Regions from separate parts of the Homo sapiens genome. Here region 2 is linked to region 1. Evidence: fine-mapped expression QTL. A gene starts in region 1. The other region holds a variant in brackets. All regions are shown on one strand. Distances are between the middles of the regions. Region 1 holds the start of P2RY1 (purinergic receptor P2Y1). Region 2 has its middle 63 kb from the start of P2RY1.

Evidence for each region. PIP is the estimated chance that this variant, and not a neighbour inherited with it, causes the effect.
Region 2: its variant is the best candidate, but not a certain one, in a credible set for the expression of P2RY1 in whole blood (TOPMed, PIP 0.76).

What each region holds. Positions count from the first base shown.
Region 1 is chr3:152,832,750-152,837,749 of GRCh38, reverse strand. P2RY1 (purinergic receptor P2Y1) reads right to left here and starts at 2,619. Exons shown (of 1, transcript NM_002563.5): 1 at 1-2,619. The coding sequence starts at 1,967. The coding sequence ends at 846. RefSeq lists silencers at 1,656-1,950, 2,663-2,712 and an enhancer at 2,383-2,482.
Region 2 is chr3:152,895,828-152,901,355 of GRCh38, reverse strand. No RefSeq gene overlaps it. Among named protein-coding and RNA genes, the nearest start is that of P2RY1, 63 kb to the right of the region's middle. The variant A/G (reference allele first, on the strand shown) is at 3,277.

The sequences.
Region 1 (5,000 bases):
CCTGGAACACAAACAAAGTCCTAAGGCATTGCACAGCAGTGGGGCAAGTAAATGCTCTTTATCACAAGATGTCTAAGAGAGCTCATGGTGTTTACAAGGAAAATACATGCACTTTAATTATTTTGAATGCATTTTACCAGTACGATAATATATGCAGGCTTTCCCCATCAAACATTTAGCACCCAATATATAATGAGACCTTTTCCAGAAATAACTGGAAAACAATCACTTTTCAGGCTTTTAAATTCATTAGCTTTACTTGTCTATTCAATGCCCTAAAGAAACTCAGTCAACTATCATCTATGCTTATAAGACACTGAAAAAAACACCCCGCTCAGAGATCCATTGATCTGATGCCGGATGAACTGATGAGTTTAGTGTTTTGTTATATACCATGCTAGATATTTCTGAGAATATAGATTTTTTATTCCTACTGTGGATTTTAAAAAAACAATAAAGGCTAGATAAACCACAAACTCAAGTTGCAGGGGGCTAGTTTTCTTAGAGAAATTACTAATATCAAAAACAGCCCCAGTACTCATGTGCACACACACTTTAAACAGAAAAGCCTGCACATTTTAAAGGCAAAAGAGAAAGTAAATGTTTAACTAGGTAGTATTGTTTTATTATACATACTTCTAGTCAGAAGGAAGAGAGACTGTGAAAGCAAACCCAAACAAGCTAAGTGTGGATGTGGGCATTTCTACTTCTATTATTTTTTTAACTCACTATTTTCTTGGTTTGATTTTTTTCTAAACTAGAAAGTTAAAGAGGGGAAAAGTACTTGATTCTGTTAAGCATCCTACCATATTACAACAGAGAGGTGTTTGGAGATTCTTGTGCCTTCACAGGCTTGTATCTCCATTCTGCTTGAACTCAGGTAAAATATTGAGGGTCATGTCTTCACTCTTGGATTGCAAATTTGCCTCACTTCTTCTAGAAGCTTTCCTTGTGGCTCGGGAGAGTCTCCTTCTGAAAGTATCTCCCGCCAAGAAATAGAGAATGGGGTCCACACAACTGTTGAGACTTGCTAGACCTCTTGTCACCTGATACGTGGCATAAACCCTGTCATTGAAAGCACACATTGCTGGGGTCTGAAAATCAAGCCGGGCCCTCAAGTTCATCGTTTTCATCACATGGAAAGGGATGTAAGACACAGCAAAAACAGTCAGTACAATGATTACCAGGTAAATCGATTTTCTCCTCAGAGGAGAGTTGTCCAGATCTTTGTAAATCAAAGCTCTCACAATTAATCCGTAACAGCCCAGAATCAGCACCAAGGGGACACAGAACATGGCCACGGTCGTGCACATGCTGTAGATGAAATAACTTCGCAGGTACTCGTCTGAGGTGGTGTCGTAACAGGTGATGGTTTTGTTTTTGCGGACCCCGGTACCTGAGTAGAAGAGGATGGGGGAGATCGCCACCACCACAATGAGCCACACCAGCACGCTGATACAGATCGCATTCTTCTTTTTGAGCCGGCCCAGGGACTTGAGGGGGTACACCACACCGCTGTACCGGTGGGCACTGATGCATGTCAGAAACAAGATGCTGCCATAGAGGTTCACATGAAAGATGAACCTCTGCAGTTTACACATGGCATCCCCGAAGATCCAGTCTGTTTTATTGAAGTAGTAGAAGATCAGGGCTGGCAGAGTCAGCACGTACAAGAAGTCGGCCAGAGCCAAATTGAACATGTACACGGAGATGCCGCTCCAGGGCTTCATGTGGAAGACGAACATCCAGATGGCCACGCTGTTGCCCAGGAAGCCGATGATGAATACCAAGATGTAGACAGCCGGCAGGTAGTAAAACTGGAAGCCCGTCTTGGTCAAGGCGCATTTGAACGACGAGGAGACGGCGGCAGTGGAGGCGACCGTGCTGTTCCCCCAGGACGAACCCGGACCGGCCAGGAAGGCAGCGTCCGTCCCGTTGGGGACAGCCGGCCACAGCACCTCGGTCATTCTCTCCTCCTCGACTTAGGCGGCGGCTCCGAGGGGTAGGAGGCGGCGAGAGGGCAGCGGCGGCCAGGGGCGCAGCAAGCATCGGAAAAGCCAGCGAGCGGAAGGGAGCAGGCGAACTGGATCCCCGCGGGAGGGGGCGCGCAGGGGCTCGCCCACGCCAGCTCTGGCCCCGCGTTCGCCGCGGGCCATGAAATCCGCCCCGGGCCGCCACCGAACTGGGCTATCGGGCAAGCCAGCAACTTCTCCGTCCGCTGGCAACGCCGAGCTTACACAACAGGGCGCGCAGGGAACCGCCGCGGATAACTTTCCGACTGCGCTTTCCCGAGGGGCCGCGGGTCCGCGCTGCAGAGCGCGCCAGAGGCGCAGCGAGGTCAAGGGAAACTCGCTCTGCAGGGCTCTAGCTTGGGGAGGCTGCTCCCCAGCCTCCTTGGCTCAAAGATCAACTTAATTGGGGGCATCTTCCTCCTCCCTACCTTAGAAACGTGCAGCTCAGTTTCGGGGCGTCTAACCGCTTCCTCCGCCCACCCTGAGCTCAGCTCCTGGCAGCCATCGGAGCGCGCGTGGCCGCAGACTCGTGCGCTTCTGCAGCGCGTCCCGTTCGGCGTCCGCGTAGTTCAGGAACCCCTTCCCCAGGCCCAGCTCTGTCCGGAGTGCCGGGGTTAGGCGGGAGAGCGGAGCTCCCTAGAGGGTGGGCGGAGTTTGGGCACCGGGGCGAGTCCGCACTCCGCGGGGAGGCGAGGGGCGTGCCTCCGCCGAGCTCGCCCAGCAGCCAGCCCGCGTCCTCCAGGGCGCAGTGGGAAGCAGGAGGCGTCTTCTGGGGAGCAGGTCTCCGCCGAGGCCGAGTGTGTTCAGCCTCTGCCGGCACGCTGCTACCGGAGTCGGCGGCGAGGGAGAGGGGTGCGCTCCAAGGTGGCTGCTGGCAGGCGATTGGCCCGCGAGCGCTCCTTCCCTCTTCCGCCAGCTATCTCGGCAAAGTGAAGTTGCTGACACACAGGAAACCCTTCCGACCGCTTAGAGCCTTCTGCCTACAACCCCAGAGCCGACCAGTCCGTAGCAGGAGCCTCTAGGGCCCTCGAGAACCACGCCAGGTGTTTTCAAGCTCCAAGCAGCCAGGAGTCCCTAGCTGGGAACGCCTGTCATTGCAGAGCGTCTAGCTTTGCCGGGACCGGATTTCTGGCACATGCAGGAACCTGCTATTCCAAGAGGGCGCGAGCCTCCAAAGGAATGAGGGTTGGGAGAGGAGTGGAGAACTCTGTTTCGCCCTTCTTACCTTTTTTTTTCTTTTTTTTAAATTCTAGTACTGTTTTTTCTTAATTACCCAAATGCTAATAAACCCACGTCATTAATAACATCAACGTGAGAATTTCCAAAATAGTCTTGTGAAGATATTACTAGTCCATATTGCACATTGCTTCAGCTCAAATTTGTCGTCATAGATACTTAACACCTATCAGACAAGACAAGCTCCCCAAATCCTCCTGTTCAGTACATTTAAAGATCAGAAGCTACAATGAAAAAAAAAAATTCGAAATTTATCCCTTTGAAAGTAATTTGAATGCCAAATGCAATACATTTATATTGATAGACGTAAAAGACGGTTATAATTCCAAAGTGACTAAGGTATGGTTTTGGTAGGGGGTGGCGGGGGGAGGGGGGTATTTCCAATTCTATTTCTTTAAGTTAAAGTGATTAGTTACAATTACCTCTAGTATCTTAAAAATACAGACTTGGGACTTCCTTAATTACTACATTTACTGACAAACTCGTTTTCTTGCCTTGAATGTAAATTTTAAGCAATGCACTTCAAAAATGTATTTGAGCAAGTTTAATTGGAAACTAAATGAAATATTAGCTGTTCAGGAACATATATAAATGGACCCGCACAAGAATGGAATCTAGCACTTCTTGACAAGTTACTAGTTAATGTATTTTTACATGACACATTAACAAAAGCTTTTCTCTTAGAGGAAAAAAAATCCAAAAAGAAAATATCTGTAAAATATATAACATCAAGATTTCTTTCTGGTCCCAGATGCTACATGATAGTGTTCCCTTAAAAAATAAAGGAAAACCACGAGCTCCTGGCTTTGATACCACAAAGGAAAATATCCCCCACAAGATCCAGATGGTTCTTTAGAGGAACACATATAGGAAGGAGCATATCTTAGCACATGGTATGAATACACTGGGTTTTGAATTGTAGTCAATTGAACAGCATAAAAATTAATAATAAAACAAGAGTAAATAATTCAAGTAAACAGTGTGAATGAGGTTGTCTTGAAAAGTCTTACTTTTTGTGTTTCCTTCCAATCTCCTGATTATATGAGTCTATGATTCTGAGCCTTAACATGAAACATTTGTGTATTGTTTGATTAGTATGGTCCTAGGTGGGATGATTGTCTATTAAGAGAGAAAAGGAAGCAAAGAAAACCATTAAGGGTTCCAGGGGTACTCAATAGGTCTTAAGTCCTCACTCCTTTGCATTTTTTATTTGCAACCTAGGCAATATCTGACTTCACTCAGAAGTTTGTTGCAAATGCATTAACTCATAATGTGAGTGTTTTGAAATGTACACTTAGTCCAGATACCATTAAGTACTTGCAGAAAACTGACACCTTACTAGGAATTGGGGGATAGTTGTTTTAAGTGCACCACAGACTTTTTAAAAAATGATGTTAAAAAATAAATTTTGGGCTGGGCGCTGTGGCTCACGCCTGTAATCCCAACACTTTAGGAGGCCGAGGTGGGCAGATCACGAGGTCAGGAGATGGAGACCATCCTGGCTAACACGGTGAAACCCCCTCTGTACTAAAAATACAAAAAATTAGCCGGGTGTGGTGGCGGGCACCTGTAGTCCCAGCTACTCGGGAGGCTGAGGCAGAAGAATGGTGTGAACACAGAAGGCGGAGCTTGCAGTGAGCTGAGATCGAGCCACTGCACTCCAGCCTGGGCGACAGAGTGAGACTCCGTCTCAAAATAAATAAATAAATAAATAAATAAATAAACAAACTTTGTAAGCATTGCTTTTGCATT
Region 2 (5,528 bases), 63 kb before region 1:
TCCATTCTACTATGGAGCCTATCCAGTGAGATTTTTGTTTTTGTTTTTTTGTATTTTTCAGTTATATAATTTCCATTTGAGTCTTTTTTATATATTTAATTTGATTTCTTTGCAAGATTTTTTATTTTTCATTTGTTTCCAGGGAGTTTTGATTTCTCATTGAAACAATTTTATGGTGGCTGCTTTAAAATAGTTTTCATCAATCTCCAAAATCTGATTCCTTTCCATATTGGCCTCAGAGATGGAGAGCAATACTCCTGGCCCATCCTGTAGCCATCCAGTTCTGGCAGGCTTTCTACTCTATCTCAACAGTGCCACTGGGAGACAAAAGCACCTGTCTAGGATGCCTTCTATCACTGGGTGCAGGGCCAGGAGTACCTGGAGCTGTGGGTTCTGGGTTGCCTTTTGCTGTTGAGTGGAAGGCTATCCTAGATCATTTTCTGTTGCCAGGTGGAGGGCAAGAAAACACAGGATTTGATTGCCTTCTGTCATTGGGTAGAGAGCCAGGAAATGCCTGGCCTAGGTTTTATTCTGCTGTTGGGTGGAGAGCTGGAAATCACTGAGTCTGGATGGCTCTCTGTATTGGATGGTGGGCCTGAAGATAGTGGCCCTGAGTTACCTTCTGCCACTGGATGGAGGGCCAAGGGACACCAGACCTCCTAAGTGCCACCAGTGCAAGTGGAAGGGCCTGTTGCTGCCAGCAAGAATGGGACATGGATTGGACAGATATATTTTAGTACCACTGATTAAACTATATTTTTCCCAGTCACTTAATCCTAGACTCTTTTCTCAGTGCTATTCTTCCTAGATTTACTTCCTATTTATTAAGGTGACATTCTATTTATTAAGGTAATTTCTATTGAGTCTCATCTACTCCATTTTCTATTTATTCTACTAGTTAGTGTCATTTTGATGCTATTTCATGTAGTCTTCATCGCCCATTAACAATATTGGCATTATAAGAAATGAGGAAATACTGAAGGAAAGCACAACCAATACTAGATATTAAATTAGCAAATTAATATTAAAGAGAAAAGTGTGTACTTTGAATATATTATAAGAACAATAAATTTAGTGACTAGACTTTTTGTTATGACAGAAAGCAGAAAACTAATTGTTCCAATAAGACAGCTCTACCAACTCTAGCTTTTTCATCCCTCAAACTAGTTTAATTATTAAAGCCATTATTGGTTCCAGAAACTTAAAACTTGACCAAAGGTTTAATAATTTATTTAATATATTAATTCAACAAATATTAATATATTACCTGTCATTTGCTTAGGTGATAATCTGCTTTAAGAAAGATATGGGGCTGGGTGCAGTGGCTTACACCTGTAATCCCAGCACTTTGGGAGGCCGAGGCGGGTGAATCACCTGAGGTCAGGAGTTCGAGACCAACCTAGCCAACATGGTGAAACCCCATCTATATTAAAAATGCAAAAAATTAGCTGGGCATGGTGGTACTTGCCTGTAGTCCCAGCTACTTGGGAGGCTGAGGTAGGAGAATCACCTGAACCTGGGAGGCGGAGGTTGCAGTGAGCTGAGATTGCACCACTGCACTCCAGCCTGTGTGACAGAGTGAGGCTCCATCTCAAAAAAAAAAAAAAAAAAAAAGAAAAGAAAAAGAAAAAGAAAGAAAGAAAGAAAAATTTTCCTTTTTATGGAATAAGTCTGACTATTCATTCTGTTTTCCTATATTATCCTCTCATGTGTTCCCTTGATAGAGTAAACCACCTGCTTAGCCTTAATAAATCCTCTATAAAACTATGGCATCTCAGTTTCTTTCCTAACAAAAAAACCGATGTCTAGTGCTTCAGCATTGGTGCCAAAGTGGCAGGTGTCTTGGAAGTGCCCAGGGAGACTTGCTGACAGCTGGAGGGCTATGGGTAATAAACACAGCCAAGCCTGCTTTCTCAAGATCTTTGAATTAGGGAAGCAGGAGGGCGTATTACAGCAATTACCTAGCCATGCCAACATTTGCACACTACTATTAATATTTCATTACCACTCCCCTTGATATTTTGACTTTACCTGTAGCAACTGTTGTTTAATCTGAATTATTACTTATAAAATTGATAAGACTTTATTATTAATAAGTAGCACTCACACTTATACTTCAGAGAAAGTTCTGAGGTATCTTTAAAATATCACACATTTCTTAACCCTGGAGGACCTCTGTTCAATTGAAATACTGTAACATTTAATGTATTTAATAACAGCCCAGATTTTCACATCAAACGATTCTGGATATATGATATTTGCTATATAATAGGTCATTGTGCAGTATTTATTTATATGTTTTAAAAATGGTAATTGACTGGGACGAAATCACTGATCAGTCAAGATACAGAGTTTGTAGCTTCCATGAATTTCTTGGACTACCCAGGACTGGGTGTTCCTGGAATATTAACATATCATATTTTCTGTTCTTTTTGAGGCTCATAAGCCAAGGCTGGCATCTTTTGTGGCAGGTCTTGGAGCACTGTGCAGTCAGACCAACACCAACAGCAACAACATACTGAGCTGCAATCTATGGCAGCCTCAGCACCATAGTCCCTGGGTCCTCTCTCTTCAAGCTGATTCTTCAGACTCAGATTTTGAAGGAAAATTTTCGAAGGAAAACCAATTAATTGCATCTGTGTCTCTCGTTTTTTTCTTTCTCACTGCCACCAGACTCAACCAGTCCAGATATATATAAGTAGATTCCAACCACAATAGGGAAACCAAGGCTAAGTGTCTAACTAGGTCCACTCACAAGAAACCAAGGAATCAAAGTAAGCTATTATTGAGCTTGGGCCTTAGAGCACAAAGAATGCATGGGATAGAAGCTGACAAACTTTGTGGTTGGCCTATGAGTGTTCACCTTCTATAAGCATTCACCTATGTGGATTTCTTTTTTTTTTCTGTGTTCCCCTAAGATTCTTTAAGTAGGTCAGTCACTTCCATGCTGGTGGGTATTGCCTTGGAGTGGGAGGACTAAATTAGTTGTTAATAAGCCCCTCAAGTGATAGGCCAAAATCTAGAAAACTCAGAGACCCACAAGGGCTAGCCAGATAATTAATGCTGGCTTGGTGGCAATTCTGGTGAACCCCAAAGCACAATGTGTCAATCTAAAAAGAGTACCTGCTCCTAAGATGTCCAACCATCCTGGTTTGCCTATAACTGAGGGGTTTTTCAGGAAGTAGGACTCTCAGTGCTAAAACTGGAAAACTCCCAGGAAAAAATGAGATGAAAATTGGCCACCCTAGCTCCTACTCAACATAGCCAATTTTTGCT[A/G]TATTTGAACTTCTTTCCTTCTTTCTATCCTTCTTTTCTTTCACATGCAAAAGCCCCTGTTTCTTAAGTTTGAGAATTAATTCAAATAAAAAATAGTTTACAGATTAAAACACAACCCATATTTGGCTCATGGGCTCCAAGTTTGTAATACATTTTTAAAGAGAAGACAGTGTATGCCTAAGGGAAAGACTTAAGTAGATGGCCTTGGTTTCCTTTTAGTCTGGGTTTTAAACCTTAGTCAAAAATGAGCCATTATGGCTCATTTATTCATCCTGTTTCACAAATAGTAGTGGTTGCACATAAGCTTTAGTAATTTACTGATGAAACCTAAGTTAGTTATAAATGATGTCATTTTAGTTATTTTCTTGGTCCTTGTTATCTACATATACTCTCCTTGGGAGTACTCCAGTGGCGTTTGTGAGAAAATAGGATTCCTCTATTTGGCCATGGAAAACCCTTTCCATGGTGAAGTGCTCAGGACAACTAATATTGCAATTATCACAATGCTCTCTTGTTTCTCTTGCCTTCCATTGCTAACCTTGTCATTCTTTCCATTATACCTTCTGGAGTTGACTTAATTCATCAGAGACAATCGCTTTACATTCTCAGCTTCTTCAAAGACCACGTTCTCTGCCTGCTTGCCATAAATAAGTTAATAAATATAAAAATGCTCCAAGTATTTTTATACTAAGTTAGTTGTAAATGATATCATTTTAGTTATTTTCTTGGTCCTTGTTTTATATATATATATATATATATATATATATATATATATATATATATATATATATATATACTCTCCTTGGGAGTACACCAGTGGTGTTTGTGAGAAAATAGGATTCCCCTATTTGGCCATGGAAAACCCTTTCCATGGTGAAGTGCTCAAGACAACTAATACTGTAATTATCACAATGCTCTCTTGTTTCTCTTGCCTTCCCTTGCTAACCTTGTCATTCTTTCCATTATACCTTCTGGAGTTTACTTAATTCATCAGAGACAACCCCTTTACATTCTCAGCTTCTTCACAGACCCTCTTCTCTGCCTGCTTGCCATAAATAAGTTAATAAATATAAAAATGCTCCAAGTATTTTTATATGGATGAATTAAGTAAACTGCAGAAGGTATAATGGAAAGCAAGGTGGCACATGTCTGTAGTCCCAGCTGTTTGTGAGGCTGAGGCAGGAGACTTGCTTGAACCCAGGAGGCGGAGGTTGCAGTGACGCGAGATCGCACCACTGCACTCCAGCCTGGGCGACACAGCAAGACTCCATCTCATAAATGAACAAACAAAAAAAACTTGGAGCAGTACCTAGAAAGTAAGTGTCAAAAAACATTGTTATTATTATCATAATCATTATTAACTGAAACCTGGCTCTGCCTAAAAAGCACAACTTTCTTTGCAATCCTCTCAAGGAAGCTTTGCCATTTCTTCTTAATGTCTGAATTTTCCAAAGTATGCAGAAGAGGATTGTACTCTCCCAGCTACCCACTGCTGTTGGCAGGCAATTATTTGCTTATCCTCCAGCAGAAACTTATGTTTGAGACTCCTACCATCAGTTTGAGCCCTGTCTTACTCTTCTTCTTCAGCTTGGTCACAATCTCACAATCACTGAGGGCTTTAGGTCTGCCTCAAGGTTTTCCTCCATGCTGATTCCTCCATGCTGATTTCAGAATCTTAAAGAGGCTTCGTGGCCATGTGAACAAGCCATTAATGAATGCCTCCTGCTTTCTTTATCTACTGACTTACTGTGTGCTCTTCCATTTTCATCATTAGGAAACTCTGAAATCCTAAACTTCAATTTTCCATTCTCGGACCACATCTCCATTTTAAATCTCCTCCTTTTCAAAAAGCATTTGAGCCCTTTCTATTTCAGTACCACCTCCCTCCCAGCCTTATCCTTCATAGAGGAAATTGAAACTGCCATATAGAATCAGCCTTACTTTTCCCTTCTTACCTAAAAACTTAGGTATCTGTCTCCACTACCGCCTGGCTCAGAGGAAGGGAAGCCATGACCTCACTCACTGGTGGTAAACCCTACCACTTGTGTTCTTAGTCTAATCTCTTCCTATCTCTTCAGAAAAATTCCAGACCATCTATCTCCATCTCTCATTCTAAGTCCTGGCTCCTTGTTGCTTGCCTATGAACCCACTCAAGTCTCTTCCATCTCAAAAAGAAAAAGAAACACTTCTTTAGAATCTCCAGCTAGCACCTTTCTCTTCTCATACCTCCAGACCATAGTTCTTCAAATAAT